Homo sapiens: one gene and its partner. The protein of the gene in region 2 purifies or fractionates together with the protein of the main gene of each other region. This does not show direct contact. Each region holds a gene or a part of one and is shown on either strand. Other genes may lie near its edges. The genes, in order: MYH11 and OVCA2.

The links.
Region 1: the proteins of OVCA2 (region 2) and MYH11 purify together in Homo sapiens (affinity purification with mass spectrometry; 3 studies listed by BioGRID and IntAct, with this or other methods). This does not show direct contact.

What each region holds. Positions count from the first base shown.
Region 1 is NC_000016.10:15,730,468-15,746,757, forward strand, and holds part of MYH11 (myosin-11), read right to left. Parts: intron 14,771-16,290; coding exon 14,662-14,770; intron 11,425-14,661; coding exon 11,293-11,424; intron 11,203-11,292; coding exon 10,996-11,202; intron 9,722-10,995; coding exon 9,584-9,721; intron 8,222-9,583; coding exon 8,098-8,221; intron 7,154-8,097; coding exon 6,982-7,153; intron 5,112-6,981; coding exon 4,899-5,111; intron 2,242-4,898; coding exon 2,097-2,241; intron 1-2,096. UniProt on the Homo sapiens protein: Muscle contraction.
Region 2 is NC_000017.11:2,034,060-2,050,039, forward strand, and holds OVCA2 (esterase OVCA2), read left to right. Parts: upstream 1-7,962; 5' UTR 7,963-7,988; coding exon 7,989-8,172; intron 8,173-8,545; coding exon 8,546-9,045; 3' UTR 9,046-9,366; downstream 9,367-15,980. Other genes in the region: DPH1 (2-(3-amino-3-carboxypropyl)histidine synthase subunit 1), read left to right, coding at 1,911-2,032, 2,470-2,627, 2,776-2,897, 5,696-5,764, 6,159-6,315, 6,446-6,546, 7,044-7,122, 7,422-7,562 and 1 more. UniProt on the Homo sapiens protein: Exhibits ester hydrolase activity with a strong preference for long-chain alkyl ester substrates and high selectivity against a variety of short, branched, and substituted esters.

The DNA of each region.
Region 1 (16,290 bases), on a different chromosome or scaffold from region 2:
GGAGGTGGAGGTTGCAGTGAGCCAAGATCACGCCACTGAACTCCAGCCTGAGTGACAGAGTAAGACTCCACTGCTCAAAAAATAAACAAATAATCCAATCTTGGGTATTTCTGTAGAGCAGTGCAACAACGGACCAATACACTAGTGATAGAACCAAATGCAAATTCCCCAAAATTTTTAGGCAATGCTGCACCCACTTAATCTAGCAGAACCAAAAGCTTCCACTGAAGGGGATGTGGAGGAGCTGCAACGCTGAGGGTAATGTAACTCAGGCTTTCAGGAAAACAATCTGGCCGAAGGTCGCAAGCTAAAAAACTTACCCTGGGGAATGAAGCACAGGCACTACCCCAAAGGAGAGAAGAGCACCCAAGATTCAGCATTCGGTACTGCTATTTACCAGCTCCCACTCCCATACACCGCAAAGAGTTCCAACAACGGGAGAGTGATTTGACCTAGTCATTCTCAAATTATGCCGGAGAGAGCTGTTCTGCCATTGAAATCAAATAATGACAAGTTTCCTCCAGTCTTTTTTTTTTTTACAAAAGAAAAATCGCTATGTTGCCCAGGCGATCTGAAAGTCCTGGGCTCAAGCAATCCTCCCTCCTTGGCCTCCCAAAGTGTTAGGATTACGGGAGGCATGAGCCGCCATGCCTGGCCTTCCTCCAGTCTGCAGAGAAATTAAAGTGGATAGAATGATCCCAGTTTTAAGTTTCATTTAAATCTCCCCGAAAGTGTTGTTACACCTTTGCTTATCCCTGAAGGGCAGTATATTGATAGGCCCCACCCATCCTATAGGCCTTCAGTCCTGTAGAGGCCAGAAAGTGGGGTCTAGGACCAGACTGTTTGGGTGCAAATCATGGCTCTGTCACTTACCAGCAGTGTGACCTTGGGTAAGTCTCTTCACCTCTAGGCACCTAGGACCTCAGTTTCTTTGCTTGTAAAATGAGTTTAATAGTACACGTCTCACAGGGTGGTTGTGAAGATTAATTGACATACTGTATGAGAAGCATTTCTATTCATTCTTTTTTTTTTTTCTTTTTTTGAGATGGCGGCTCACTCTGTCGCCCAGACTGGAGTGCAGTAGCACGATCTGAGCTCACTGCAACCTCTTCCTCCTGGGTCCAAGTGATTGTCCTGCCTCAGCCTCCCGAGTAGCTAAGATTACAGGCACATGCCACCACACCCAGCTAATTCTTTATATTTTTGGTAGAGATGGGGTTTCACCATGTTGGCCAGGCTGGTCTCGAACTCCTGAGCTCAAGTGATTTGCCCGCCTTGCCTCCCAAATTGCTGGGATTACAGACATGGTGAGCCACCGTGCCCAGCCTATTTTTATTGTTTGATTAAGGTCTCACTGTGTCGTCCAGGCTAGAGTGCAGTGGCATGACAGGGCTCACTGCAGCCTCAACCTCCCAGGCTCAAACGATCCTCCCACCTCAGCCTCCCAAATAGCTGGGACCACAGGAATGCACTACCAGGCCTGGCCAATATTTTATTTTATTTTATTTTTTTGAGATGGAATCCTGCTCTGTTGCTCAGGCTGGAGTGCAATGGCATGATCTCTGCTCACTGCAACCTCTGCCTCCTGGGTTCAAGTGATTCTCCTGCCTCAGCCTCCCGAGTAGCTGGGATTACAGGCATGCACCACCGCGCCCGGCTAATTTTTTGTATTTGTAGTAGAGATAGGGTTTCGCCATGTTGGCCAGGCTGGTCTCGAACTCCTGACCTCAGGTGATCCACCCAGTTTGGCCTCCCAAAGTGCTGGGATTACAGGCTTGAGCCACCACGCCTGGCCTACTTTTTTAAAATTTTAGTAGAAACAAGGTCTCACTATGTTGCCCAGGCTGGTCTCCAACTCCTGAGCTCAAGCGATCCTCCCGCCTCAGCCTCCCCAAGTACTGGGATTACAGGCGTGAGCCACCTCACCCAGCCTGTATGGGAAGCATTTTGTAAATAAATATAAGCTGCTATCATCATCATTAGAATCTTATGTAACTTGTTTTTTGTCTTTATGCAGACCCTGACCTGTAGTAATTTGAGGCTGCTGATGTCACTCTTATGTGTCATCACCAAAAAGCATCACCAAAAAGCATTACCCTCTTGAACTGCTCAAGCTGCTCTGTGAGCTCCTCCACCGCCTGTGCGTGTTTCTGCCTCATCTCCTGGACCTGAGCCTCATGGGACCGCGTCTCTTCATCCAGGGCCTTCTTCAGCACCGTCACCTCCTGCTCCCTCTTGGCCCTTGGTGGGAGGAACACAGTGAATGGCAGTTGGGTGGAGACAGAGGGTCATCTCAGTGCCGTGCAAAAGAATGAGAGCTCTTCCAGGACCCAGAGCTGCAGTCCTCATCACCACCCCTCTCTAGCTGTGTGACCTTGGGTCATTCACCTAACATCTCTGGACCTAAAATTTCCTCAGCTGCAAAATGTGGAGCATATCACCTGCCTAGGACATCTGTAATGACTGGCAAACAAATACACAAAGTAATAGAATTGAAAGGATGTCTGTGAACTGCAAAATTTTGCTTAAATATTAATGTTGGCTCTTATTTAATGAGCAGTTACTATATGCCAGGCCCTGAGCTAAGTTTTTTATATACATCATCTAATCCTCAGAGCAACCCAAAGAGGCAGGTGTGTTATTATTTCCATTTTACAAATGAGGAAACTAAGGCTAAGAGAGGGTAAGCAGTTTTACCCATGGTGTCACAGCCATTGTGTGATGGAGCCAGAATTAGAAGCTAAACCTTGACCTTGAGTCCATGGTTTTGTTTGTTTGTTTTTGAGATGGAGTTTCACTCCTGTTGCCCAGGCTGGAGTGCGACAGCGCAATCTTGGCCCCCTGCAACCTCCACCTCCCGGGTTCAAGCGATTCTCCTGCCTCGGCCTCCTAAGTAGCTGGGATTACAGGTGCCCACCACCACGCCCGGCTAATTTTATATTTTTAGTAGAGATGGGGTTTCAACATGTTGGTCAGGCTGGTTTCGAACTCCTGACCTCAGGTGATCCACCCGCCTCAGCCTCCCAAAGTGCTGGGATTACAGGTGTGAGCCACCGCACTCAGCCTGGTTTTTTGTTTTGTTTGTTTGTTTTTCTTATCGAGTCTTGCTCCGTCGTCCAGACTGGAGTACAGTGGAATGATGTCAGCTCACTGCAACCTCTGCCTCCCAGGTTCAAGGGATTCTCCTGCCTCAGTCTCCCAAGTAGCTGGGATTACCGACGCCCACCACCACGCCCGGCTAATTTTTGTCTTTTTAGTAGAGACAGGTTTTCATGATGTTGGCCAGGCTGGTCTCGAACTCCTGACCTCAGGTGATCTGTCTGCTTCAGCCTCCCAAAGTGCTGGGATTACAGGCATGAGCCACCATACCTGGCCCATGCACTGGGCTCTTCTGTATCAAAGGCCAAGCGGCAAGGGAGCAGAACGCTGTGCTCTATGTGCATGTGACACTGCACAAAACCCAAAGTGGGGGAAGTAAACCCCAGGGTATATGGTGTTGGCACAGCTAGCATAGCTATATGCTATGATACATGCTATGCCAACACCACAGATTGCATCAAAATACATTTATGTGTTTACTGAATGAATCAATGACCTAGTTTCACTAGAGTCAGGATTCGTGATCTGGCAGGCAGTTTGTTATTGTTTGTTCATTTGAAGTGAATCTTCAATTGAAAACCAATCTGATCAATTTTATTTTTAAAATTTAACACAAAAGTGATACACACACATACTTGGGAATTGGAGCTTGGGGACTGACTGATACACACACAGACAGGAAGGAATTTCTCAAGAATGTTAACTGGTGTGACTAAGGGTGATTTTTTTGTTTTTTGTTTTTTTTTGAGATGGAGTCTCACTCACTGTGTCACCCAGGCTGGAGTGCGATGGTGCGATCTCAGCTCACTGCAACCTCTGCCTCCCAGATTCAAGTGACTCTACTGCCTCAGCCTCCTGAGTAGCTGGGATTTACAGGCATGCGCCACCACGCCCAGGTAATTTTTGGATTTATAGTAGAGACAGGGTTTCACCATGTTGGCCAGGCTGGTCTTGAACTCCTGACCTCAAGTGATCCACCTGTCTTTGGCCTCCCAAAGTGCTGAGATTATAGGCGTGAGCCCGACCCTAAAGGTGATTTTTTTTTATGTCTGCTTTTCTATAGTTTTCAAATTGTTCTCTGAGTATATCCAAGCTTACCAATGAGGATGGTTTTGAATGCAGCCTGACACAGAGTCATAAACTTTCTTAAAACAGTATGAGATGTTTTTTCCAATTTGTAAAATTTTTTTAGTTGATCAGCTATTATTAGTGTTAGTGTATCTTATGTGTGGCCCAAGACAAATCTTTTTCTTCCAATGTGGCCAAGGGAAGCCAAAAGATTGTACATCCCTGGTATATACTACTCTTCTGATGAGAAATAAGATGATGAGGGTCGGGTGCAGTGGCTCACACATGTAATACCAGCAGTTTGGGAGGCGGAAGTGGGTGGATCACTTGAGGCCAGGAGTTCAAGTCCAGCCTGGGCAACATGGCAAAACTCCATCTCTACTAAAAACAAAAAATTAGCCGGGTGTGGTGGCACATACCTGTAATCCCAGCTACTCAGGAGGCTGAGGCATGAGAATCGCTTAAATCTCAGAGGTGGAGGTTGCAGTGAGCCAAGATGGCACAACTGCACTCCAGCCTAGGCAACAAAGCCAGACTGCCTCAAAAAAAAAAAAAAAAGAAAGAAAAAAAAGAAACAGCCAACCATGCTTCTATAAGTTAAAGCAAACCGCGGCCAGGAAGGTAAATGCACAGGGGCTGATGCACGATTTGCTTTGGGTTTGTCCCCTCTTCTGCCCCCATCCCATTGGTGCAGTGGGATAGCAGGATGGTGGGATTGATGGGCCCCTCACCTGAGCTCCTGCTGAGTGGCTGTGCTGTCCAGTGTGTCTTCCAGCTCTGTCTTTAGGGCCTCCAGCTCCTCGCCGAGGTCTCGCTTCTGCTTTTCAGCCTTGTTCCTGGCGGCCCGCTCTGAGTCCAGGTCCTCCTGGAGGTCTGAGATGTGGCCCTCCAGCTCCCGGATCTTCTTCAGGGCATTGTTCTTCTGAGCGATTTCATCGTCAAGCCTTCCAGGGAGAGACCCAGCAGAATGAACCCCCAGGTCCCTTGGTTTCCTCTCTTACAATGTGGCCAAAAACTTTTCTGGGACCAGACAGTTATGTTGCAGAGACATCAAACACCTTCTATCCATGTCCCCAGGTCTGCTTCTTGACATGCCAGACTATATGAGATTAACATAGGATGTGAGTGCCAAGGTCTGACATCAAAACAGGTTGTACATGTGCATGGGTGTGTGTACGTGTGTATGCACGTGTGTGCATGTGTGTGCAAGAATGCAAAGCATTGACCCCAGACTGGCAAGGTACCTGGTCACAGTAGGGACTGTGTAGATGCTTTCTGAATGTTGGACAGTTCTTCTTCCCTGGCAACTGTCTGTTCTTTCTGCATTTGCTCAGTGACTGAGTACCCGCCCCATGCACAGCATTTGGCCAGCCACTGCTTGCGGGGGATATTCAGACTGGGGCTCTGCATCTGGTGGAGGTGGTGACCAGAGATCAAGGTGGGCTGCAAGAAGCCCTGTTAAATGGCAGAATGCTGCAGGAGAGGCAAGCACTTTGATTTTACTGTACTTGTGAAAGGGCAGCAACAAGAGAGAAAGTGAAATAGTTGGGTTGGGGTGAGACTGCAGAGGGTGGATGGGCTCTGAGGGTGAGGCTAAGGAAACTGGATTTTCCCTAGTAAGCCAGTGAAGTTAGGTTTTTGTTTTGTTGTTATTATTGTTTTGAGACAGGGTCTTGCTCTGTTGCCCAGGCTGGAGTGCAGTGGCATGATCATAGCTCACTTTAGCCTCAACCTCCTGGGCTCAAGTGATCCTCCCATCTCAGCCTCCTGAGTAGCTGGGACTACAGGCACACACCACCATGCCTGGCTCATTTTTTAACTTTTTGTAGGGACAGGGTCTTGCTATGTTGCCCATGTTGGTCTCAAACTGCTGGCCTCAAGCAATCCCCCCACCTCGGCTTCCCAAAGTGCTGAGATTACAGGCGTGAGCCACTGCATCCAGCCAGCAAAGTTTTGTGAGCAGGTTCCTGCCCCAGAGAGATGCTTTCCCTTCATCACCGTAGCACTGTCAACATAGCACAAATTGGCCGACAAAAGAGCCAGGCCAGGGGATCAATCAGAAAGCTTTGAGGCTTAAATCCCAGCTCTGCCTCTTAGAAGCAATGACATTGCTCCTGTTGCGTTACCCCTAGGAGGCTCAGCTTCCTCCTCAAAGACACCGGCAGTACACCTGGCCAGGTGTCTGCAAAGGTATTGCTTGAAAAGAACTTAGCACCGAGTGAGCAGGTAAATAATCATTCATAGTGGCTGCTGCAGTATTAGCATTAGTGTAAATCCAGCTAAGAGCCAGGAAGAGGGAAAAACCAGAGGAAATGGGTGGGGGACATTTAGAAGGACTGGCAGAATCTGAAGGTTGCTGCTTGCTGTGGGTCGGCAGAAACAAAGGAGGAGATTGGTGTTCACAAAAAAGAGGGCCCTTAGAGGGAGGGGCTGGGGAAAGGAAGGTCATTCCCGCCTTAGACAGGGGTGTTTGAGATGACGGTGGAAATTGACTCATTGGGCAATCGGAAATTCAGAAGGGGGTCTAGATGAGAAAAGCCTGGATGTCGAAGAGGCAGCAGCAACACCATGGGAGTAGGTGAGATCAACTGCAAAGACATGATGTGTTTGCAGGGAAGAGAAGAAAGTCGAAGGTGAGGATCTGGGGGAGTGAACAGGGTCGAGAAGGCTTGTGGGAGGCCTGGCCTGGGAAACGAAGTTCATGCCAAGGGCCTGGGGCCGCCTTGACCAAGACAGCCACTGCGAATGAGCGAATGAGCAGGGGCCCAGGGGATACATGGACACACAGCAAATGCCCCTTGCCAGCCCCGCTACCTGGCCAGGGCCGCCTGCAGCTCCTCCTCCTTCTTGGCCAGCTGCATCTTGAGCTCTGCGATCTGCGCCTGGAGGTCAGCGATCTGCTCGTGGAAGTCGCTGGCATCACCCTCCAGCTTCCGTTTCAGCTTCTCCAGCTCCTGTCGGCTCTTCTCTTCCTTCTTTAGCCGCACTGCAAAAACCAAGGTGCTCTTCAGGAAGGGGAGGCCCCAGAGAGATGCCCGGAAATGAGCCTTCCTGCCCAGGCATTTTACCCGGAGGAGATGAACACATCCCCCAATCAGTAACCATCATAGTCACGGTCTGGACCATTATCTCCCGATGAACAGCACCTTATATTGTCATAATATTATTATTAGTTGAGATGGAGTTTTGCTCTTGTTGCCCAGGCTGGAGTGCAGTGGCGCAATCTCAGCTCACTGCAACCTCCGCCTCCCGGGTTCAAGCAATTCTCCTGCCTCAGCCTCCCGAGTAGCTGGGATTACAGGCGCCCGCCACCACGCCTGGCTAATTTTTGTATTTTGAGACAGGGTTTCACCATGTTGGCCAGGCTGGTCTCCAACTCTTGACCTCGTGATCCGCCCACCTCGGCCTCCCAAAGTGCTGGGATTACAGGCGAGAGCCACCGCACCCAGCCCTTTTATCATATTATTAGTGCATGTGATGACTAAGGGTGATTTCGAGAGGTGGCATAGAGTTAGTTGTCACTCATGGGATGATCTGCCATCCTCAAATTTCCTTTCTGATTTTCCTGCTTTTAAAAATACCCATTCAAGCCCAGGAATAGTGGCTCATGCCTATAATCCCAGCACTTTGGGAGGCCAAGGTGGGAGGACTGCTTGGGCCCAGGAGTTTGAGACTAGACTGAGCATCATAGTGAAACCCCATCTCTACAAAATAAAAAATAAAAAAAAATTAGCTGGGTGTGGTGATGCACGCCTGTAGTCTCAGCTGCTCAGGAGGCTGAGGCAGGAGGATCACTGGAGCTTAGGAGTTTCGGGCTGCAGTGAGCCATGATCGCACCACTGCACTGCAGCCTGGGCAACAGAGCAAGACCTCATCTCTAAAAAAAATAATAAAATAAAATAAAAATAAATCTCTTGGTAGCTGGTTTACCTTCCAGTTCTGAAATCATAGATTCATGCTTGTTTTTCAGCTTGGTAAGATTCTTGGCCTTTTCTTCCTCTTCTGCAAGATTTGTCGTTAAGTCACTAATCCTCTCCTCAAGGAGTTTTCGTTCCTTTTTGGGGAAAGAGAAAGAGATAGCTTTAGGATTTTTCTTTTCTCTAGAATCTATGTTTCACTTTTAGTGATTTCCATGTAAACAGTTGAAAGAAAAACCCACATTATAACAAAATACAACTAGAGTTTTAAATGGTAAAGAGAAGTCCCATAACAATTTCCAAAAACTGGCCATTTCTCATCTCGTGCCAGTTTGTCCCTCATATTGTATGGTCAGCTAAAGGTACCCTCCTTCCATTCCTGCCACTGGCCAGCTCTTCCCTGCCCCAGGGCCTTTGCACAGTGGGCCAACCAGCTGAGATGCTCTTCTACTCCCCTCTAACTGCTCCTTCATCTTTAAGTTTCTGCTTAAATGTCACCTCCTCCAGGAAGTCTTCTATGAATACCCTTCCTCTATCCCCCACTGCTGTATTCTTTTTTTTTTTTTGAGACAGAGTCTCACTCTGTCGCCCAGGGTGGAGTGCAGTGTTGCTATCTCAGCTCACTGCAACCTCTGCCTCCCACGTTCAAGTGATTCTCCTGCCTCAGCCTCCCGAGTAGCTGGGACTACAGGCGCCCGCCAACACACCCAACTAATTTTTTGTATTTTTAGTAGAGATGGGGTTTTACCGTGTTGGCCAGGCTGGTCTCCAACTCCTGACCTCAGGTAATCCACTTGCCTCAGCCTCCCAAAGTGCTGGGATTGCAGGCATGAGCCACCGCACCCGGCCTGCCGCACTCTTAAAATATGGTGAACGTTTCCTTCAGAGCCCTGATCACCATGGTAAATGACGATTATTTGCCATCTCACTACAGTATAAACCCCACAAGGGAAGGGTCCTCCTTCACCATGCATACCTGCATCTAACACAGAGCCTGGCTCACAGTAGGGGCCAAGCTGACATCCAGCTCAAAGAACTAAAAGCAGGTGGGGCTGGTTAGTGACTACTGACTACGGTGACCAGCTTGTCCTGGTTTTCTAAGGGCTTTTCTGCTTTGAGAACTGAAAGTCCCAAATCCCCAAAATCTCCCTGATCCTGGTAAGCCTGTTGTTTTTAATGCAGAAACTTGATTCCACTTTTTTTTTTTTTTGAAACAGAGTCACTCTGTCACCCAGGCTGCAGTGCAGTGGCACGATCTCAGCTCACTGCAACCTCTACCTCCCAGGTTCAAGTGATTCTCCTGCCTCAGCCTCCCAAGTGGCTGGGATTACAGACACTGGCCACCACACCTGGCTAATCTTTGTATTTTTAGTAGAGATGGAGTTTTACCCTGTTGGCCAGGCTAGTCTCAAACTCCTGGCCTCAAGTGATCCACATACCTTGGCCTCCCAAAGTGCTCGGATTATAGGCGTGAGCCACTGCACCCGGCCCCTACTCACTTTTGATAGTTTATTGTTCTGATCATCCATGACCAGGATCTCATCCTCCAGTTTCTTGATCTTGGCCTCAGCCGTGACCTTCTCAAGTTGCAGCTTCTGCCTGGCAGCTTCCTCCTCCTCCAGCTGTTCTTCAAGGTCCTTTGTTGTGGAGGGAAAAGAGTAACAGCTTTGGTTATAACAGATTTACTCTCGTGGTGATCTGGGGACTAATGAATACAGGGGCTAGGCCTGAAGATGCCCAGAACTCTGTAGCCTCCTAAAAGGAAGAAATAAAGGCCTGAGCGTGGTGGCTCACACCTGTAATCCCAGCACTTTTGGAGGCCGAGGTGGGTGGATCACTTGAGGTCAGGAATTCAAGACCAGCCTGGCCAACATGGTGAAACCCCGTCTCTACTAAAAATACAAAAAAAATTAGCCAGGCATGGTGGTGGGCTCCTGTAATCCCAGCTACTCGGGAGGCTGAGGCAGGAGAATCGCTTGAACCCGAGAGGCAGAGGTTGCAGTGAGCTGAGATCGCACCATCGCACCCCAGCCTAGGCAAGAGAGTGAGACTCTGTCTCAAAAAAAAAAAAAAAATAAAGACCTGGGTAAGCTGCTCTGCTTCATGGAACCTCAACCTCCTCATCTATAAAATGAGCACAGTAGGTACCATGGTGGTTTTAAAATCTATCCACAAGTTCTTTGCGACTCCAAAAAGGTGGAGCCTAATTCTCCTCCCCTTGAGTGGGGGTTAGATTTGCTTCTAACAACAACAACAAAAATCAGGAAGAAGTGATGGAATGTAACTTCAGAGATTAGGCTATAAAAGGCATTGCGGCTTCCTTTCTCCTCTCTCAGATCACTCCTTCTGGGGGAACTCTGCTGCCATATTGGAAGGACACTCAAGCAGCCCTGAGGGGAGAGGCCTTCATGATAAGGAACTGAGGCCTCCTCCAACAGCTGTGTGAATAAGCCAAGTAGAAGTGGGTCCTCCAGCCCCAGATGAGCCTTCAGATGACTGCAGCCTCAGCCAACACCTTGACTGCAACCTCAGGCCGGACCCTCAGCCAGAACCACTCACCTAAGCCACTCTCAAATTCCTGACTATGCAATACTTTTTATTTTTAGCTGCTGAGTTTGGCATGTTTTGTTATGTAGCAATAGCTAACAAATACAATTATCCTCCATTCAGGCTTGCTGTTAGGAGAAAAGGGGTTAGCACATGCAAGGCAGGGCAATAGAACAGAGTGGGCTCACTGTGTTCCAGTCCCAATCCCAGCTGTGTGGCCTTGATCAGATGACCAACCCTCTCCAAGCCCCCGTCTCATCATCTGTCCCAGCAGGGACACATATCCCTGGATGCACCTCCACAGGCCTGTGGTGAGGGTCAAGTGATTTGCTACCCACCACGGGCTGCCCCTGTGACACCTTACCAGCATCTGCTGGGCCATCTTCTTCCTTTCAGCCTGTAGCTGCTGGCCCCTGTCTTCCTCCTCCTCCAGGCGGGCCTCCATCTCATGCAGTATCTCCTCCAGCTCCTGCTTCTTGGCCGCCAGCCGCACCCGCATCTCCTCAGCCTCTGCATACAGCTCTGTCTCTGCCTGCAGCTGTTCCTGTAGCAGGTTCTTCTCCTCGGTCAGCTGCACGCAGGTGGTGGGGAGGAGGCGGGTGAGCCCCACGGGGCCAAGTCCTGTTCCCCAGCAACCCCAGCCATGCATCCATACAGGTACCTGCGAGTGCTTCTGTTCCAGCTCCTTAAGCTCATTCTCTGCCTTCTGCTGCCGCTCCTTGGTCTTCTGCAGTTCATCCTCCTTGGCCTGCATCTCCTCCTCCTGCCGTGTCACCTGCAGCAGTGGCTTCACCTGCACACACACGGTTAGCCCATCATTTGTTTTTGTGGCAAAGGGATATGTTGTCATAATAAATTCGATCAGTGGTTCCGAGCCAGGGACAATGTTGCCCCCACCGATCCCCACTAGGGGATATTGTCTGGAGACACTGCTGATTGTCACAGCTGGGGTGGGGGGTGCCTCTGGCATCCAGTGGGTAGAGGCCAGGGATACTGCTAAACACCCTACAGTGCACAGGACAGCCCCCACAACAGAATTAGTCACCCCAAAATATCAACAGTGGCAAGACTGAGGAGCTCTAAATCAGAGCACCAGAAAAGGTACAAAGTGAAAGGAAAAAGTCTCATCTTCCCCACTTTAGAACCATCCCAACAGAGAACTACTGCTGAAAAGTGATATTTCCTTCCAAGGACAAAAGGGAGAAAAAAAATCTTTCATATCCCACCCACCTCCCTATCAAAGTCATTATTAACATTGTTTACATTTCCTTCCTGGCTCTTTTTCTATGTTTAAAAAATAGACTTAAGACCATGCTGCCTAGTTGTAGAGGCTGCTTTTATTATTTAAAATTATATGATACAGACAGGAACAGTGATGCATGCCTGTAATCCCAGCATTTTGGGAGGCCGAGGCAAGCGCTTGAGCCCAGGAGTTTGGGACCAGCCTGGGCAACATCATGAGACCCCATCTCTACAAAAACAAGTAACCAGGCATGGTGGTGTGTGCCTGTAGTCCCAGCTAGTGAGGGGTCTGAGGCAGGAAGATCGCTTGAACCCTGCAGGCTGAGGCTGCAGTGAGCCACGATTGTGCCACTGCACTCCAGCCTGGGTGACACAGTGAGACCCTGTCTCCACAAATAAAATTTTTTTAAAAATTATAAGATATGTATTACCCCATGCTGTTACATCATTCTTACAACTTTACATAGCCATCTTTTAAGTTAATTTATTTATTTAGCGATGGTCTTGTTTTGTCACCCAGGCTGGAGTGCAGTGACACAATCATAGCTCACTGCAGCCTTGAACTCCTGGCCTCAAGCGATCCTCCCACCCCAGCTCCAGAGTAGCTGGGACTACAGGCACATGCCACAGTGTCCAACTAGACAGCTAGGTAGAAGTCTTTTTTTTTTTTTTTTTTAGCAGACCTATTCAGTAGCCAAAGCCATCATTTTAATAGCTGAAAACATTCCATTGATAGATGAACCATTATTGAACTCATCATTCAGCTAGGACTGGACACTGAAATTCTGCTATTGTAAATAAGGCCATAATGAATGCCCTTAACTCTTGATTTTCTTTTCTCTTTTTCAGGTGGAGTCTCGCCCTGTCACCCAGGCTGGAGTGCAGTGGCACGATCTCAGCTCACTGAAACCTCTGCCTCCTCGGTTCAAGTGATTCTCCTGCCTCAATCTCCTGAGTAGCTGGGATTACAGGTGCCCACCACCACACCTGGCTAATTTTTGTATTTTCAGTAGAGATAGGGTTTCGCCATGTTGGCCAGGCTGGTTTCGAACTCGTGAACCCAGGTGATCCTCCTGCCTTGGCCACCCAAAGTGCTGGGATTACAGGCATGAGCCACCACACCTGGCTAAGACGATTTTCTTAGGATAGTTTTTCAGAAGTTGGTTCAGTGGGGACGAACATTTCCAAAAAGCAGCATCTGCTGTCCTTCCCTGGGCTGCCTCCTAACTCTTTGTTTTCAAGCCCCTGCCTGGCACAAGGAAGCCCCTGCTATGTACTCCAGCAGCTTGCTTCATGCACTTATCACAGTTTGCCATTATGTATCTGTCTCTGTGATTATCTGTTTATTGTTTACTCCCCACCAATTCGGCTAGAATATTCATGGAGGTCAGGGACCATGGTGTGTGTTCACAGCTGCACCCCCAGCACCTAGCATGTGCCTGGGATACAGCAGGCACTCAATGTCTGTTTGCTTGGTGAAAAAGCCTTGCACCAGTGGATACACTCAAGGGCATATAAGGAGAAGCCTAGTCTATTGCAACAGAGCATGTCTTTGTGCCATGGGGACAATGCAACCAGTGCCACTACAGGAACCAGTTGAGTCCTCTGGAGGCCCTGACTCTGCCAGAAATAAAAAATAATATGCTATGGCCAGATGAGGTGGCTCATGCCTGTAATCCCAGCACTTTGGGAGCCTGAAGCAGGAGGGTTGCTTGAGGTCAGGAGTTCAAGACCAGCCTGGGTAACAGAGTGAGACTCCATTTCAAAAAATGCAAAAAGTAAAAAAAAAAAAACCTGCAGTATTGATACATGCAACAGTCTGGATGCTCTCTAATTCCATGTATAGAATATTTGTTTTATTTTTTTTTGAGACGGAGTCTCGCTCTGTCACCAGGCTGGAGTGCAGTACAGTGGCGCGATCTCAGCTCTCTGCAACCTCTGCCTCCCAGGTTCAAGTGATTCTCTTGCCTCAGCCTCCTGAGTAGCTGTGACTACAGGCGTTTGCCACCACGCCCAGCTAATTTTTGTACATTTAGTAGAGACAGGGTTTCACCATCTTGGCCAGGATGGTCTTGATTTCTTGACTTTGTGATCCACCCGCCTCGGCCTCCCAAAGTGCTGGGATTACAGCCGTGAGCCACCGTGCCTGGCCTTTTTTTTAAATAAAAAAAAAAAGAAAGAAGAGACAGAGTCTCAATCTTTCACCCAGGCTGGAGTGCAGGCATGATCTTGGCTCACTGCAACCTCTGTCTCCTGAGTTCAAGAGATTCTCCTGCCTTAGCCTCCTGAGTATCTGGGATTACAGGTGCCTGCCACCATACCCAGCTAATTTTTGTATTTTAAGTAGAGACAGGGTTTTGCCATGTTGGCCAGGCTGGTTTTGAACTCCTGACCGCAAGTGATCCGCCTGCCTCGGCCTCCCAAAGTGCTGGGATTACAGGCGTGAGCCGCCGCCCCCGGCAGCATTCTTGAACCATCAAAATTACAGAACTGGAGAACAGAGTGGTTTCCATGGCTACGGAGGAAGTGGGTGTGGCTATAAATGGGCCACACGAGGGATTCCAGTGCGGATGGAAATATTAATACTTTGTGTTAAGGTCCTGGCTATAGCCTATGTGCCAAAGGACAGGGCCTCCTCGGGCCAGAGAACCGCCAATGCTCAAGGTCTGAGTTCGAGCCCTCCATTCCACACCCACTTGCGACCACCTCCTGTCCCAAATGTGAAGGCTCCAGAGTGAAGAAGCAGGGCTGGGGGCCCCTGGGAAGGGGGCTGGGGCAGAGCACTCACTTTGGTGAAAAGCCTCCACCACTGCCAGTTCCGCAGCTTGAGGTAGGCGGCGCAGTTCCTCTGAATCACCTTCATGGCGGTCAGCTGCTGCTGCCTCTTGGCAAAAGCCCTAGGGAGGGGGGAAGAGAAGGTGCGGGGGTCATGAAGCCACACCCTGCTGTCAACAGAGCCCTGCCCTGCAGCATCCTGAACCTGCACAGGGACATGCCCCAATCTCCCCAACTCAGGTTCTTCCAGAAACCCTGTGTGACACATGTGTTGTCTGGCTGCAAACAACTTAAATCATCTACAGGACAGAGCCTTTTTCAGTGGACAAGGAAGACCCAGGGCTCACAACATGCCCTGGACTTAGCTGAGATCCAAACACCACTCAGAAAACACAACTATGTGCATCATTCCTAAGGGGGCTCCCGTACTCCCCAGCTGCACTAGCTGTTTCTTTTTTCTTTCTTTCTTTTTTTTTTTTTTTTTTTTTTGAGATAGAGTTTCGCTCTTGTTGCCCAGGCTGGAGTGCGGTGGCACGATCTCAGCTCACTGCAAACTCCACCTCCGGGGTTCAAGTGATTCTCCTGCTTCAGCCTCCTGAGTAGCTTGGATTACAGGTGCCCACAACCATGCCTGGCTAATTTTTGTATTTTTAGTAGAGATGGGGTTTCCCATGTTGGCCAGGTGGGTCTCAAACTCCTGACCTCAGGTGATCCACCCACCTTGGCCTCCCAAAGTGCTGGGATTACAGGTAGGAGCCACCATGCCCAGCCTACACCAGCTGTTTCTGACTAACTTATTTATTTATTTGTTTATTTTCAGAGACAGGGTCTGGCTCTGCGGCCCAGGCTGGAGTGCAGTGGTGTGATGATGGCTCACTGCAGCCTCAAATTCCTGGGCTTAAATGATCCTCCTGCCTCAGCCTCCCAAGTAGTTGGGACTACGGGCACATGCTACCATGCCCAGCTAATTTTTAAAGTTTTTTTTTTTTGGTAGAGATAGGGGTCTCGCCATGTTGCCCAGGCTGGTCTCAAACTCCTGGGCTCAAGCAATCCTCCTGCCTCGGCCTCCCAAAGTGCCTGGGATTACAGGTGTCAGCTACCACACCCAGCCCTGTCAAACCTATTCTCTCCTGGGTTGTTTTAGGAATTTCACACTGTGACCCTGAACCAGCACTCTTCCCGTTTAAGGGCTATCGATAGATTGAGAAACGATAGAACAGTGAACGTAATTCTGTCTTCCCTGCTTGGCTGCCATCTTGGACACAGGAAAACTTTAAGAATAAAATTGCCCCAGTTATCCAGGAAGGACAGCAACAGGGAACTTAGTAACGAAACTTGACAAGTTAGGTCTGTTGCGGGAGGGCCAAGAGCTCCCAAAGCTGGCCTTGACCATCTTGGGTCCATGTGTCAATGAATGAACCTGACACATCAGGGTCCTACTGGTGAGGGTGTGGTCTCTGCCCAATGACAACACACACCCCAGACAGAGAGCGACCCCACCTGTCCCTGCAGTCCCTGGGGTATGACTTTCATTAAGGAACCCGAACCCTTCCCCGGCTCCCAGTCTTCACAGAACAGCTGGGACATCACACCCTCCAAAACCCTGCCTTATAAATCCCACTGGGACACGGGGATCTAGACA
Region 2 (15,980 bases):
CCTAAACATTTGGGACAGAGAAAGAAATCAATCCCAGTGTCTTCAAAGCTAGACCCAGAGCAGGTGGTAGGACCTGGGGAGGACCCTAAGAATTCTCCAAGCTGCCCCTGAAATGCGCTGAGTGATCAGTGGGAGGTCTGCCGGTCGGGGGCGGTGGGGGGCACCTGTTCCTCGGGCACATTTGGGGAAGTAGGGCAAGGATGGGTTTGGAGTGGGAGGTGCCTGGGAGAAGGTATTCAGTTCCTCTACATCCTACCCCTGTCACTCTAAGTTTCTGCAATACAATGAGCCATCCTTGGTGGGGAGGGTGAGAGCTCAGCCATCTGGAACCAGCACAGGAACAGGGGAGGGGAACGAAGAAAGGGGAGGTCATCTCATGCTGGGAACCTCCCACTCCCCTGCTGCCCCATCGCCCTCCCCTGCTCCTCCCTCCCCCTCCCCTTCTCCCCCATCCCCCTCCCCTGCTCCCCCATCCCCTGCTGCCCCATCCCCCTCCCCTGCTGCCACCCTCCCTCCCCTGCTCCCCCAAACCTCTCTTCTCCCCCCTTCCCCTCCCCTGCTCCCCCTCTCTCCCCTCCCCTTCCCCCTCCCCTGCTCCCCCTCCCCTCCCCTGCTCCCCATCCCCCTCCCCAGTTTCCCCATCCCCTCCCCTGCTGCCCCATTCCCCTCCCCTACTCCCCCTTCCCCCTCCCCTGCTCCCCCCTCCCCTGCTGCCCCCTCCCCTCCTCCCCCACTCCCCTGCTGCCCCATCCCCCTCCCCTGCTGCTGCCCCATCCCCCTCCCCTGCTGCTGCCCTCCCTCCCCTGCTGCCCCATCTTGTTGCCACAGACTCACTTCCCTGCTCCCACCGTCTTGCCCCTTGGGGATGCTCTCTGGGGCTCAGGCCAATTTGCATACATTTTAATCTATAAAAAATTAAGTGCTGTGGCTGACTTAGACGCCTGGGCTGCATTCTAAGGAGGTGAATAATCTGCTTCTGGGCACAGCCTGATTTGGGGAAGGGGGTGGAGGAGGGGGTGACTAGCAGGAGCTCAACTCTTCCACTGCCACACCCCCAGGGGAAGGATGGGGGGACCCCAGTCACTGAGCCAGGCTCCACGCCCCAAGTGTGAGTCTCTTTCAAGGAAGAGGGGGTTCTCCTCCATTCCTAGGGTGAGTTCAGGGGTACAAGGTCTTCCCCACCCACCCCCTCCCCCAGTGATTCAGGCCTGGCAGCAGTTCCCACGGCAGTGTTCTGGCCAGAGCCTCCTCTTCCTGATGCAGGAGGCGTGTAGGTGGTGCCATGTGCTATGGGGGAGCTGTGCCTGGGTCCCCCCATCCTGGGCACCAAGGGCCCTGCCTGCGGTGGGGAGGTAGTGGGGGTCCGGACGAGAGGGCCCTGCCTGTGGTGGGGAGGTAGTGGGGGTCCGGGTGAGGGGGCCCTGCCTGTGGTGGGGAGGGGGTGGGGGCCCTGCCTGTGGTGGGGAGGGAGTGGGGGTCCCGGCAAGAGGGAGGCTGTGTGTATTCATACAGCCACGCCCATGCCCACCACAGCACTCAGCGCGGGAGTGAGGACCTTTGGGTGTGTGTGCGTGCTCACGGCTCTGGGTGGGTGAGTCAGGGCATGGGGCGTCTGTGTTTTGACCCCACGTGTGCCGGAGTGAGGGTTGGGGTCCCTCCTGCAGCCTGAGCCTGGGTAGAGGAATGAGGGTCCTCACGCAGCAACAGTTCCAGGAGCGGCTGCCAGGCTGGGGCAGGCGGCAGCTGTGCCCCTCCTAATCTTTGTTGGCAGAAGTGGCAGCTGCCATCCCGAGGAACTGGGAGAGGTAGGGAGAGAGGAGCTGGGCCCTGAGACACCCTCCCAGGGTTGGGTCTCTCCTACCTCAGTCCCTGTGTCCCTGTCCCACCGTTCCCCGCCCCTGTGCCCGCAGGTTCACGGAGGCCGAAGTGATGGTGATGGGTGACGTGACCTACGGGGCTTGCTGTGTGGATGACTTCACAGCGAGGGCCCTGGGAGCTGACTTCTTGGTGCACTACGGCCACAGTTGCCTGAGTATGGTGGGGCCAGGACACCTGGACGGTGGCGGGGCTGGCAGGGAGGCAGGCTGCACATTCATCTTCCCCATGGCAGTGCCTTCTTGTCCTGCTTGGAGACACAAGGTCCCTCCTGGTTTCTGGGGTGGCCTCTGCCTTCCCGCTCTGCAGGTAGATCTTTCCTTTGGATTTGGTTGCCTTGGCAACGGTGCTCTGTCCCAGATGCAGGTGTTTGAAAGGCTGTTGGTTGTAGAGCAGGCTGGGCCCCGGCCGGGTGACAGAGAAGTCTGATTGAGAAGGAGCTTCTAGGGGATCTGTGACCCCCCTCTTCTCCTACCCTGTCCTTTTACCCCCAGGCTGAAGCCACTGCGCCTGGCTGCTCAGAGACCTGAGCCTGGCCGGGCCCTCTGCTGCTCCTGCCTTCCCAAACAGCCCCTGAACTCCTCCCTCCCACAGTTCCCATGGACACCTCGGCCCAAGACTTCCGGGTGCTGTACGTCTTTGTGGACATCCGGATAGACACTACACACCTCCTGGACTCTCTCCGCCTCACCTTTCCCCCAGCCACTGCCCTTGCCCTGGTCAGCACCATTCAGTTTGTGTCGACCTTGCAGGTGGGTGGAACGAGGATCCTCGGCCTCCTGCAGGGTGGACAGCGGCCACTCTCCAGCTGTTGCGGGATCCCCAGGTGCTCCAGGCTGTTTCTCAGCCCTGGCTCTCCTGCCCCAGCCGCTGGCTTCACTTCCCTCGTCATTCCTACAGGCAGCCGCCCAGGAGCTGAAAGCCGAGTATCGTGTGAGTGTCCCACAGTGCAAGCCCCTGTCCCCTGGAGAGATCCTGGGCTGCACATCCCCCCGACTGTCCAAAGAGGTGGAGGCCGTTGTGTAAGTTAAAAATGGGGGCCAAGTAAGTCCTAGAGACATGCGTGTACCCTGGGAGGGAGCCTGAGGTTCATCATCCAGGAAAGAAACCAAATCTAATGCTCCTTACCTGTGAGCCCGAGGTCACACTGCAAGGTAGGGACCAAACAGGGAGCAGACCTCAGGTTTACTGTCGCTTTCTCCACTGCCCAGTCCATCATCCAGAAGGCTGTGCAGGGTGGGGGCAGGAATCAGAGGGCCTGATGGGGGTTGAGGGTGGGCTGGAAATGGTGGGAATATAATTGGAGAAGATGGATGGGCACGCCCAGGCTGCAGCCCCATTAATTTACCATCCGGACAGCTAACAAGCAGAAGCAGCGTGTCTCCTGCCGCCTAATTATTTTAGGTAATGGAAATGCTTAATGTTGTGTGAATGCAGCCAGCCTGAGAGCCGACGGCTCCCCCGACTGGGACTAGGGAAGGGAGTCCCGTTCCGTACTAATGGCAGGGAGGGAGGGTCGCTCCCTGACTCAGTCCCACCTCTGGGGCTTTGGAGGCTGTTTCCACAGGCCTGACACCCCTGTCCCTAGACAGGCCCACATCAGGGCCTTCCCCAGCCCAGATCTGGCAGCCCTGCTCCCCGAGCAGCACTGAGTGGCATTCCCCCTGTGCCCACGTCACTCAGTCTCTACCCTTGGGGTCTTCAAAGTGTATGTTGGAGGGAGGGACACCCTGAGTGTTAGCCATTCATCAGAATGAAGTGTGGTCTCCAAGAGGGAGAGAAGGAGCTGCCACAGGCAGGTTATCTTCCACGCTCTGTAATCTTCATGGGCTGGGAAGCTACTGTCAGGGACAGCATGTCTGGGGGCACACTTGGTACAGCCTGGGTTGAGCCTCAGACACACTGCTTCCTAGCTGTTTAATACTAGGCGAGTTTCTTAACATCCCTGAGCCTCAGTTGTTACCTTCTGTAAAACAGGTATACTATACGTATCTGGGAGGATTAGGAGATAGGACTGCGTGAACTAATTCACAGCAGGTACTTAGTCTATGCCTGGTACACAGAAGGCACAAGTCCAATAAACAGTAGCTGTTGGCCGGGCACAGTGGCTCACGCCTGTAATCTCAACACTTTGGGAGGCCAAGGCAGGAGAATTGCATATGTCCAGGAGTTTGAGACCAGCTTGGGGAATATAATGAAACCCTGTTCTCTCCAAAAAAAAAAAAAAAAAAAAAAAAAAGAATTAGCTGGGTACAGTGTCCATGCCTGTAGTCCCAGCTCCTCAGGAGGCTTAGGTGAGAGGATCGCTTGAGCCTGGGAGGTTGAGGCTGCAGCGAGCCATGACCGAGTCACTCAACCTGGGTGACAGAGTAAGACCCTGCCTCAAAAAAACAAAATGAAAATCCGGTAGCTTTTGTTATAACTCAGTAACTGGCCCCAAGAGCTAGTTTGGGCAGAAAGTAGCCATTGTATGCCCTGCAACCTCATGTACAGCATAGATCAGAGGTCCCCAACCCCTGGTCCCATGTCCTGTTAGGAAACCTGCCGCACAGTAGAAGGTGAGGGGTGGGCCAGCCAGCGTGACCACCTGAGCTCCGCCTCCTGTCAGATCCGCCGCGGCATTAGATTCTTGTAGGAGCTCAAACCCTATCGTGACCTGTACATGCGAGGGATCTAGGTTGCATGATCTTTATGAGATCCTAATGCCTGATGATCTGAGGTGAGACAGTTTCATCCTGAAACCATCCCCCAATCCCACCCGTGTCTTCCACAAAACCTGTTCCCAGTGCCAAAAATATTGGTTACTGCTGGCGTAGATGACTCCTTGAACACTACTGTCCACATCTGTATTGAGCTTGTGAAGGAGAATCTGTTCCCCAACTTCCAAATGAGGATCTCTAGAACCCCAGGTGGCCTCACCACGGCCGGCTGCTCCTTCACTCTTCCTCAGAAGCTTGGGGTGGGACGGTTCTTAGATTCTGCATTATGTAAATAGAGGGACCGTAGAGTCATCCAATTCAAACTCCTTATTTCACACGTGAGAAAACCAAGGCTCCAAGAGGTGAAGTGAAGGCTTGTCCCAGTTTACACAGAGGCACAGCACAGCCAGCTGTGAACTCAGTCCTCTGGACTTTTTTTTTTTTTTGAGACAGAGTCTTGTTCTGTCGCCCAGGCTGGAGTGCAGAGGTGCGATCTCGGCTCACTGCAGCCTCTGCCTCCCGGGTTCAAGTGATTATCCTGCTTCAGCCTCCCCAGTAGCTGGGACTACAGGTGCCCGCCACCACGCCCAGCTAAGTTTTTGTATTTTTAGTAGAGACAGGGTTTCACCGTGTTAGCCAGGATGGTCTTGATCTCCTGACCTCGTGATCCACCCGCCTCGGCCTCCCAAAGTGTTGGGATTACAGGCATGAGCCACTGCACCTGGCAGCCCTGTGGACTTCTTTTTTTTTTTTTTTCTTTTTGAGACGGAGTCTCACTCTGTCACCCAGGCTGGAGTGCAGTGGCGCGATCTCAGCTCACTGCAAGCTACGCCTCCCGGGTTCACGCCATTCTCCTGCCTCAGCCTCCCGAGTAGCTGGGACTACAGGCGCCCGTCACCACACCCAGCTAAGTTTTTGTATTTTTAGTAGAGACGGGGTTTCACTGTGTTAGCCAGGATGGTCTCGATCTCCTGACCTCATGATCCGCCCGCCTCGGTCTCCCAAAGTGCTGGGATTACAGGCGTGAGCCACCGCGCCCGGCCAGCCCTGTGGACTTCTAAGCCAGCGAGTGCCTCTTCTGCTGCCCTAAACCACACTTAGCCTCCTTTCCACCCCTGCAGGTATCTTGGAGATGGCCGCTTCCATCTGGAGTCTGTCATGATTGCCAACCCCAATGTCCCCGCTTACCGGTATGGGCTGGGCCGGGCTGGGCTGACCAGCTGGTGAGGGGTGAGATTCCCTGCCACTGAGGTCCTCAATTGGTTGCATCCCCATTTCCTGGCCACTAAGCCACCAGCCCTAAGGGTCTGAGGCACTTGGGCCCTGGATCTGGGCATTAGCCCCAGGGCTGCTGTTGCCTACCCGTCTCCTGGGGTTTACACGGAGATCTTAAAGCCGCCCACTCTTGTCTGCTCCAGCTGTGGGACAGGTCTTCCTAATGACAGTCCCCGCTCTTGCCTCTGTTCTTAATTACCTGCGTGGGGCCTAAAGGTTCAGGAGCCCACGGGGCTGAGTCAGGAGCTGTGTGCATAATACTGGTCCTGACAGTGGCTGCCACAGTGACCCTGACTGCTTCTTTTCCAGGTATGACCCATATAGCAAAGTCCTATCCAGAGAACACTATGACCACCAGCGCATGCAGGCTGCTCGCCAAGAAGCCATAGCCACTGCCCGCTCAGCTAAGTCCTGGGGCCTTATTCTGGGCACTTTGGGCCGCCAGGGCAGTCCTAAGATCCTGGAGGTCAGTGGGCTCAGGACAGCCTCTGGAGGAGGGAAGTGACTGGGAACACAGCTGGGAAAACCAGTAGGCCACAGGTTCAGCTTTGGCTGCTTGACCAGGTGACCCCCACCCTGCCTCCCTCTCCCAACAGCACCTGGAATCTCGACTCCGAGCCTTGGGCCTTTCCTTTGTGAGGCTGCTGCTCTCTGAGATCTTCCCCAGCAAGCTTAGCCTACTTCCTGAGGTGGATGTGTGAGTATCTGCCTGGCTATGACTGGCTAAAGAAGCTTAGAAGCTGGGTCTTGCCCAGCTCGTCTTGAAGGCTGGAGCCAACAGGAATTGCTTCCATGGTCATGGAATTTTACTGTTTACAGAGACCTCCCTGGGAGGGCTAACTGGGTCATACCTGCTTTGGGACTTTGGGGCTCAGAGGCAATGGCAACATCACATTTGTCCTTGTGAGATGAGTTTGAGCGGTGGCTGACACCTGCCCTGTACCAGGTACTAAATGTGGTTCTGGGGATACTATCACCAGTGAGCTGCCCTGGAAAGCTCATTGTCGGCAGAGGAAACAGGAGAAAACACGCAACAATACAGTATTCCAAACAGCAGTGGGTCACTGTCTTTACTTTAGGATTCATAAAGCCTGTTAATGAATGGGTGTGCTGGGGGCACTGTCATGTTCTTCAGCATGCTGCCTGGGCGACGAGGAGGCCCTTCCTAGGGTCTGACCTGGCTTCCCTTCCCAGGTGGGTGCAGGTGGCATGTCCACGTCTCTCCATTGACTGGGGCACAGCCTTCCCCAAGCCGCTGCTGACACCCTATGAGGTAACACCAAGCTCTGGGAGAGAGTGGGCTTTGGACGTGGTTCTCAAAGGTGAGGTCTGGAGTGGAGTGGGGTGGGTGGGCAGCACTTCGTTATGTTCGTAGATTCCGGAGTCTGTCTCGATTTCTCCAGCGGAGTCACTTCCTAGCTGTGTAGCCTTAGGCAAGGCCCTGAACCACACAGTTCCCTTCTGTGGCAGGGGACAGTGTGCCCTTCACAGGCCGTCGTGAGGACTGAATTCAGTAATCCAGGGGCAGAAAAACACTGGCAGATGTTATTGTCCCTCCCTCCCCTCCCCTAGGCGGCCGTGGCTCTGAGGGACATTTCCTGGCAGCAGCCCTACCCGATGGACTTCTACGCTGGCAGCTCCTTGGGGCCCTGGACGGTGAACCACGGCCAGGACCGCCGTCCCCACGCCCCGGGCCGGCCCGCGCGGGGGAAGGTAGGCGGGGGCTTCCAGGAGGGAGGAGAGACCGCGCCTGGGCACTGGCCGCCGCCCTGCGACCGCGACGGGAAACGCACAGGAGCGGAGCGGAGGGAAACGCAGGGTCGCAGGAGCGAGACCCTAACCAAAGTCTGCGACCTCAGGTGCAGGAGGGGTCCGCGCGTCCCCCTTCGGCCGTGGCTTGCGAGGACTGCAGCTGCAGGGACGAGAAGGTGGCGCCGCTGGCTCCTTGACGCGCTCCCGGGCCTCAGGTATCAGCCCCCGCTCTGGGTGCGCCCCGCCTTTTGCCGTTGTCATGGGAACGCCTTGGCGCTCCGAGGCCCGCCCTCGGGGCGGTGCTGACGTTCGGTTCCGCCCCGTGCATTGTGCTTCCGCTCGGGGAAAGACCGCTTCCGGTGCTTCCGTCGCTCCTTGCCGGGCATAATGGCCGCGCAGCGACCCCTGCGGGTCCTGTGCCTGGCGGGCTTCCGGCAGAGCGAGCGGGGCTTCCGTGAGAAGACCGGGGCGCTGAGGAAGGCGCTGCGGGGTCGCGCCGAGCTCGTGTGCCTCAGCGGCCCGCACCCGGTCCCCGACCCCCCGGGCCCCGAGGGCGCCAGATCAGACTTCGGTGAGACAAGCCCCGCTCCGGAAACGCACTCAGTTTCCTCCATCTTGTTTCGTCCCCCTCGACACCCTTCAGCATCCCCCACCCTGCGTCCACCCGCATTCCTCCCACCCAGTCCACACCCTTCATTTCTCGCGACCCATACCCTCTTTGCTCAAACTGCAGCCTGTCCTCCCAGGCTTCCGCCTTCACCGTCTTCCTCCGCTGTCTCCTGTTCAGGCCAATCCACTCATTTCCCCCCTCTCATTTCCCCCAGACTTTTGCCTCGATTCCCTTTTTCTCTCTGTCATCTCGAACCCTCCTGCCCTTTCTCATTTCTTTCCTTCCTGGAGCCTCCCATGCCCTAATCCCATCCTTTTTCCTCATATCGCTGTAGGGTCCTGCCCTCCGGAGGAGCAGCCTCGAGGCTGGTGGTTTTCAGAGCAGGAGGCCGACGTTTTCTCCGCATTGGAAGAGCCCGCCGTCTGCAGGGGCCTGGAGGAATCACTGGGGATGGTGGCACAGGCACTGAACAGGCTGGGGCCTTTTGACGGCCTTCTTGGTTTCAGCCAAGGGGCTGCGCTAGCAGCCCTTGTGTGTGCCCTGGGCCAGGCAGGCGATCCCCGCTTCCCCTTGCCACGGTTTATCCTCTTGGTGTCTGGTTTCTGTCCCCGGGGCATTGGGTTCAAGGAATCCATCCTGCAAAGGCCCTTGTCATTGCCTTCGCTCCATGTTTTTGGGGACACTGACAAAGTCATCCCCTCTCAGGAGAGTGTGCAACTGGCCAGCCAATTTCCCGGAGCCATCACCCTCACCCACTCTGGTGGCCACTTCATTCCAGCAGCTGCACCCCAGCGTCAGGCCTACCTCAAGTTCTTGGACCAGTTTGCAGAGTGAAAGATCAAGAAATGTCTCTGCTCCTACATCCAGCTCCTCTAGGGGCAGCCTCCGTCATCCATGCCCTCCCAGGACCCTCCACTCACTGCTGTGAGTGCGCCTCACCAGAACCAGTTAAGAGACAACTATCAATTCTTGAGACCCAAATTATAAGGGCCCTGCCCTGTACTGAAGAAAAGGGGAGCACAAGGCCTTAATGGACATTGACTTGTGAAAACGCAAACATGAATATGGTTGGAGAGCCCTGGATTAGGAGGGTGACATGGGGAAGGCAGAGGCTGGCACCATGGTGACTGCCACATAATAAAGTGGTGATTTGGATTTTGAGCATCTTTTTCCTGGTACACACAGAAAAACATTTTATAATGGAAGTCGGTTTCTTGGCCATCTACATAGTTTTCTGGGCAGCGCCAAGCAGGGAGGTGTCTCCAGTTGTGAGTCCTCGGACAGGCTGCTGCATGGGTGCACATACTCACGTTATTGGTGGAAGTTTTAAGTCCCAAACTGAAGGGAAGGAGGCCTAGGTGGCACAATCAGGGAGGAATATACATCTGAGAAGTTTTGGGAAGACATCACCTGGCAAGGCTGCCTGAACCACAGTAATTTAGTCTTCCTCTATCCAGATCACTGAGAGTTGTGTGCTGGTCTTCTCTCAAACCCTGGATGTGTTACCTGCTTCTCCCTAAGTGCTCTAACCTCGCTGAACTATGAGCCTGAAGGGTGGGTCGATGCCAGACCTTAGGTGGAGGCCAAAGACAGTACAGAATAAACAGCTTCTTCCTAAATTGACCCCATCTTGAGGGTTTCTGAGATTGATGCCATTCTTTAGTGACTACAGCCAAGGCCTAAGCAATCCAGCTGGTTTTCCCCTTGGGGCGTGTAGTTGTTCTTGGATACTTTGAGGATTGCTCACTCTTTTTTTTTTTTTTTTTGAGACAGGCTCACTCTGTCACCCAGGCTGGAGAGCAGTGGCCAAGATCCTGGCTCACTGCAACCTCAGCCTCCTGGGTTCAAGCAGTTCTGTCTCAGCCTCCTGAGTAGGTGGCGTTACAGGCATGCGCCACCACGCCTGGCTAATTTCTATATTTTTTTGTAGAGATAGGGTTTTGCCACGTTGCCCAGGCTGGTCTCAAAACTCTTTAGCTCAAACAATCCACCTGCCTCAGCCTCCCAAAGTGCTAGGATTATAGGCCTGAGCCACTGCACCTACCTAGGATTGCCCACTCTTTTTTTGTTTTCTTTACTTTTAAAGACAAGGTCTGACTCTATCACCCAGGCTGGAGTGCAGTGGCACAATCTTGACAGCCTCCACCTCCCGGGCTCAAGCCATCCATCCTCCCACCTCAGCCTCCCAAGCAGCTGGGGCTGCAGGCGCAAATCACCATGCCTGGCTAATTTTTGTATTTGTTGTAGAGAAGGGGTCTCACCATGTTGTGCGGATGGTCTCCAACTTGCGAGCTCAAGCAATCCACCTGTCCTGGCCTCCCAAAGTGCTGGAATTAACAGGCGTGAGCCACCTCACCTGGCCAATTGCCCACTCTTAATGAGTTCCCTCCCATTTCCAGTGCCACCTGACACCCCCCACCCCCTGACACACACACACACACTCTTGTTTTCTGACTTCCTGCCTCTGCAAGACAAGAAGCCTGTTCTTTTTCTGGAAGATCACACCAACTCCTGTTTAGCCCTCAGACATAGTTGCCAGGGAGCTAAGCAACTGAGCAGGAATTATGGTCAGGGACACAGCACAAATACTCCAGCCCATTTTTCTGACAACCAGACTAATATCCCTTACATTACCGAAAGTTCTGGGTTCCTCACTACAGAGATTAGCTGTCCAAAATTAAAAAAAACAAAACAAAACAGAATTATCCGCCCAGAGACCTAGTTACTGGGTGTGGAAAGTGTGTGTGGGGAGGGGTGGGAGGTGGTTCTCCCTTGCTTCAGTTGGCTTCTGCCTTGTTTTAAGGAATCTTCTCCTTTAGCAAAAGGAGGAGACTTTGGAATGGATTGATTACACAGACTGTGGTATCTGACCCATTGAATTTTAGAAAAAATTCTGATTTAAAGTTTCAGAAATTGCACAGAAAATTTCAGATTTCTGGCTTCTCTGGAAATGATAGATTTGCAGTTCAGGGCTCCCATACCCTCATGGTAATCATAGGCTGCCCCCTTTAGCACGGTCCCAAGAGGTGAAAACGACTTGTACACCCCAGCTGCTTGGGATTATTGAGGACGAAAGTAGAGAGAAGGGGAGAAATATTGGGGAGTGAATTTTGAGCCAAGGCTTAAAATTAAAAGTGGGGGAGGTAGAGCCCAGCAGTAGTAGGTGGAGGAGAAGGGCTCCTGGCCGGGGGTGAGGATTCCTCCTGAGAACCATAGTGTCCAAGCTAGAGGGAAACATGGGGTCCACTAGTTCTCGACAAGTGGAACAGGTCACTTCCCATCATGCCGTCCAGGAGCAAGAGAGACTCTTAGGGGGTTGTGCCCCTCCCCACCCCCAATACGCAGATTCTGTGTACCATTTACATCCAGAACATTGGTTAAAACCTGAATTCTGGCCCTGCGTGGTGGCTCATGCCTGTAATCCCAGCACTTTGGGAGGCGGAGGCGGGCAGATCACCTGAGGTTGGGAATTTGAGGCCAGCCAGACCAACAGAGAGAAACTCTGTCTCTACTAAAAATACAAAATTAGCCAACCATGGTGGCGCATGCCTGTAATCCCAGCTACTTGGAAGGCTGAAGCAGGAGAATTGCTTGAACCTGGGAGGCAAAGGTTGCGGTAAGCCGAGATCACGCTATTGCACTCCAACCTGGGCAACGAGAGCGAAACTGTCTCAAAAAAAAAAAAAAAAAAAAGTAGCTGGGCGTGGTGGCATGCACCTGTAATCCTAGCTACTTGGTAGGCTGAGGCAGGAGAATTGCTTGAACCCAGGAGGCGGAGGTTGCAGTGAGCCGAAATTGTGCCACTGCACTCCAGCCTGGGTGACAGAGTGAGACTCCATCTCAAAAAACCAACTTGAATTCTGGGGCCAACTCCAGATGTACTGAGTCAGAATCACTGGGACCCAGGAATCTGCATTTTGGCAAATTGCCCCCATCATTCCCAAGCAGGGATTTGAAAAGCCACTGCCTTAGGGGTTGAATGAAAGCCTCGGGTGAGGGTGTGTTATCTGAAAAACCCCTAGTGTGACTCTCTTGCAACCCACCAGGGAGGGGAGCAAGCTCCCCAGAACAATCACTGCTTAAACATTTTCAATTTATAGCAAAGGAAAATTAGGTCTGAAGGATAGAAATAGGAATAGCATTTATTTATTTACTTACTTATTTGAGACGGAGTCTCGCTCTGTCACCCAGGCTGGAGTGCAGTGGTACAGTCTCCGCTCTCTGCGACCTCCGCCTCCTGAGTTCGAGCGATCCGCCTGCCTCAGCCTCCAGAGTAGCTGGGATTACAGGTGTGCATCACCACTCCCAGCTAATTTTTGCATTTTCAGTAGAGACAGGGTTTCGCCATGTTGGCCAGGCTGGTCTTGAACTCCTGATCTCAAGTGATTCGCCCACCTCAGCCTCCCAAAGTGTTGGGATTACAGGTGTGAGCCACTGCACCCGGCCAGAAGAGCATTTATTGAGTAATAACTGTATACCAGACATTGTAATAAGCAAGAGCTTTAATGCGGCCTAATTTAGGGCCAGGTGCGATTGCTCATGCCTATAATCCCAGCACTTTGGGAGGCTAAGGCATGAGGATCAATTGAGCCCAGGAGTTCAGAACCAGCCTGGGAAACATAGTGAGACCCCCTCTCTACAAATAATTTAAAAGTTAGCTGGGTGTGGTGGCATGCACCTGTGGTCCCAGCTACTCGGGAGGCTCAGGTGGGAGGATCACTTGAGCCCAGGAGTTTTGAGGCTGCAGTAAGCTGTGATTGTGCCACTGTATTCCAGCCTGGGAGACAGAGCTAGACCCTGTCTCCAAAAAAAAAGAAAAAAAAACAAACTACAAAAATTGGCTGGGGGTGGTGGCACACACCTGTAGTCCTAACTACTCAGGAGGCTGAGACAGGAGAATTGCTTGAACCTGGGAGGCGGACGTTGCAGTGAGCCGAGATCATGCTACTGCACTTCAGCCTGGGCAACAGAGCAAGACTCCATCTCAGAAGAAAAAAACAAATAAAATTATATATATATAACACATATATATTTTATATATATTAGGCAATAAATATATATAGCTTAAACCTTACAACTTCATGTTTAATCTCACAACTTCATGAGGTAGGTACCATTATTATTATTATTATTTGAGACGGAGTGTCACTCAGCCACCCAGGCTGGAGTTCAGTGGCACGATCACGGCTCACTGCACCTCCGTCTCCTGGGTTCAAGTGATTCTAGTGCCTCAGCCTCCCAAGCAGCTGGAATTACTGGCAAGCACCACCATGGCTGGCTAATTTTTTGTGTTATTAGTAGAGACGGAGTCTGACCATATTGGCCAGGCTGGATTATTATTAAGACAGGGTCTACCTCTGTCACCAGGTGCAGGATCATGGCTCACTGCAGCCTCGACCTCTTCGGCTCAAGTGACCCTCCCGCTTCAGCCTCCTGAGTAGCTTAGCTGAGACTACAGGTGCCACCTATCACACTGGCTTTTTTTTTTTTAAGACATGGGGTCTCACTATGTTGCCCAGGCTGGTCTCGAATTTCTGGGCTCAAGCAGTCCTCCAGCCTCTGCCCCGCCCCGCAAAATGGTGTGATTACAGGCATGAGCCATGTCTCCCAGCCCTAAATAATGATTTTTTTTTTTTGAGACAGGGTCTCACTCTGTCATCCAGGCTGGAGTACAGTGGTGCAATCACAGCTCACTGCAGCCTCAACCTCCCAGCCTCAAGCAATCCTCCCACCTCAACTTCCCAAGTAGCTGGGACTACAGGTGTGCACAACTAATTTTCTTTCTTTTCTTTCCTTTCTTCTTTCCTTTCTTTCTTTTTTGTAGAGATGGGAGTCGCATTGTATTGCCCAGGCTGGTCTCGAACTCCTGGGCTCAAGAGATCCTCCCACCTATGCCTCCCAAAGTGCTGGGATTACAGGCGTGAGCCACTGTGCCCTGCCCTAAATGATTTCTAAGATGCTAAACAACCCTGACGTACGGTCAATCCTCTGGTTCTTTCCCCTCTGACCACATTCTGACCTCTTCTCAGAATATCCCAACCATTTCTGTTTTCCACCTCTGATTCCACCTTGGATTCCTAGAGCTCTTAGGAGAGAGAACCCCCTTAGCAAGGAACCTCTCAACAGCCCCAGGCCCAGAGTGAACCCGGGAGGCGGAGGTTGCAGTGAGCCGAGATAGTGCCACTGCACTCCAGCCTGGGCGACAGAGCGAGACTGTCTCAGAAGAAAAAAAATAAAAGTATATGTATGTATAACATATATATAATATAGATTATATATATATTAGACAATAAATATATATAGCCTAAAGCTCAAGGTGTACCCCCCACATCCCGTTCATTCTGCCTAAGTGCACAGAGCTGGGGTCCCCTCCCAACACCACCCCTTCACAAACATGTAGTAGCCTAACAGAATACTTAAGATCAAAATAACATTCTGCTGTTTTTGGATTTTTACTTACATGATCCTATTTAATCCTCACAGTGCACCTGCCGAGGAGAAGAGATTATTATCCCGTTTTACAGAAAGCTCAGAAACAGAATATGGCCCCTTAACCACCAGTTGCTGATAATGCCAGGTTGGACCTCTGGCTTCCCAGAGCACTACACCCAGCAGTCCACTGCAGTCCACCCACTGACATCCCCTGGAACCCAGAAGCAAGTGCGTTTTAATCTGCAAGACCTCGGGGCCCTGGGGAGGTGGGATGGCTAGCATGTGGGTGTTGATTAACTGGGAAACCGGCACGAGTGTCTTAGAAGTACTTCACAAAGGAGCCGGGTGGGGAGTGAAGGAGGGGGTGGGGCGTGAGACGTTAAGAAAAATTGGATTAACGTGTCGTGGGCTGGGTTGCATTAACCATTCCCAACACTATCTCTGGGGAAGTCTCACACCTGATATTCAATAGACATCCCCTGTAGTGGGTGATGTTGGCAGAGGCAGGCGACATATACAATAATATTTTTAGAGATCCTTGTTCACACTTCATCCGCACCAGAGGACTTCAGCCCCTGTGGTATTCACTCCTCTTTAGGGCTAATTTGAGAAACTGTCTCAGATTGGAATCCAGCACCTAGAGATAGGCTGAGGTGAGCAGGCTGATCTGTTCAGACGCTTCGCGGACCAGGTTAACTTTACAAGCTCATTGGCTTCCAGAGGGTTGGGGACCCTTCTTATCCTCCTAGCTCAGAGGGAAAGATTCAAGAGTTTACTCTTCGCCCAATGCCCACTTCAGCTAGGGGTTCCTGGAAGAACGGGGCTGTGGAGTATCTCAGAAAACTTTCCTCCCTCTACTGTCTTCAGGCCCCAGGAGACAAACCTCCTTCCAAGCCTCCTGGTCCCAGTGGCTTCCCTCTCACCGAAATCGAAAGAACCCGAGTCCCAGCCCGACCCCTTCTCTCGCCGAGCCCTGGCTGGGATACCTTGGCCGGGAGGACAGGACGGCCTCAGGCTGGCCGCCAGACGCACTCCGCAGGACGCGCGCGCTCGAGCCTCGGTGGACTCAGCCGCCGGCCCCGGGAGGCCGCCTCCCTGCGCAGCACCTCCTGCCACCCGCGCGGGCACGTGGGATCTTGACTCGCCGCCCCCGCCTCCTTCTGCTCCGCGTCCCCAGCCCGCGGCTCGGGGCGCGGCGTGGCGCGGCGCGTGGGCGTGCTGCGGGGCGACCATGGCTGTAGACTGTTACCTCCAGTTCCCACAGTAACAATCGAAAGCCACGGTTGCCCTGGAGACGCGGGGGCGGGGCGCGCGGACGGCGCCGGCGCGGGGCGGGC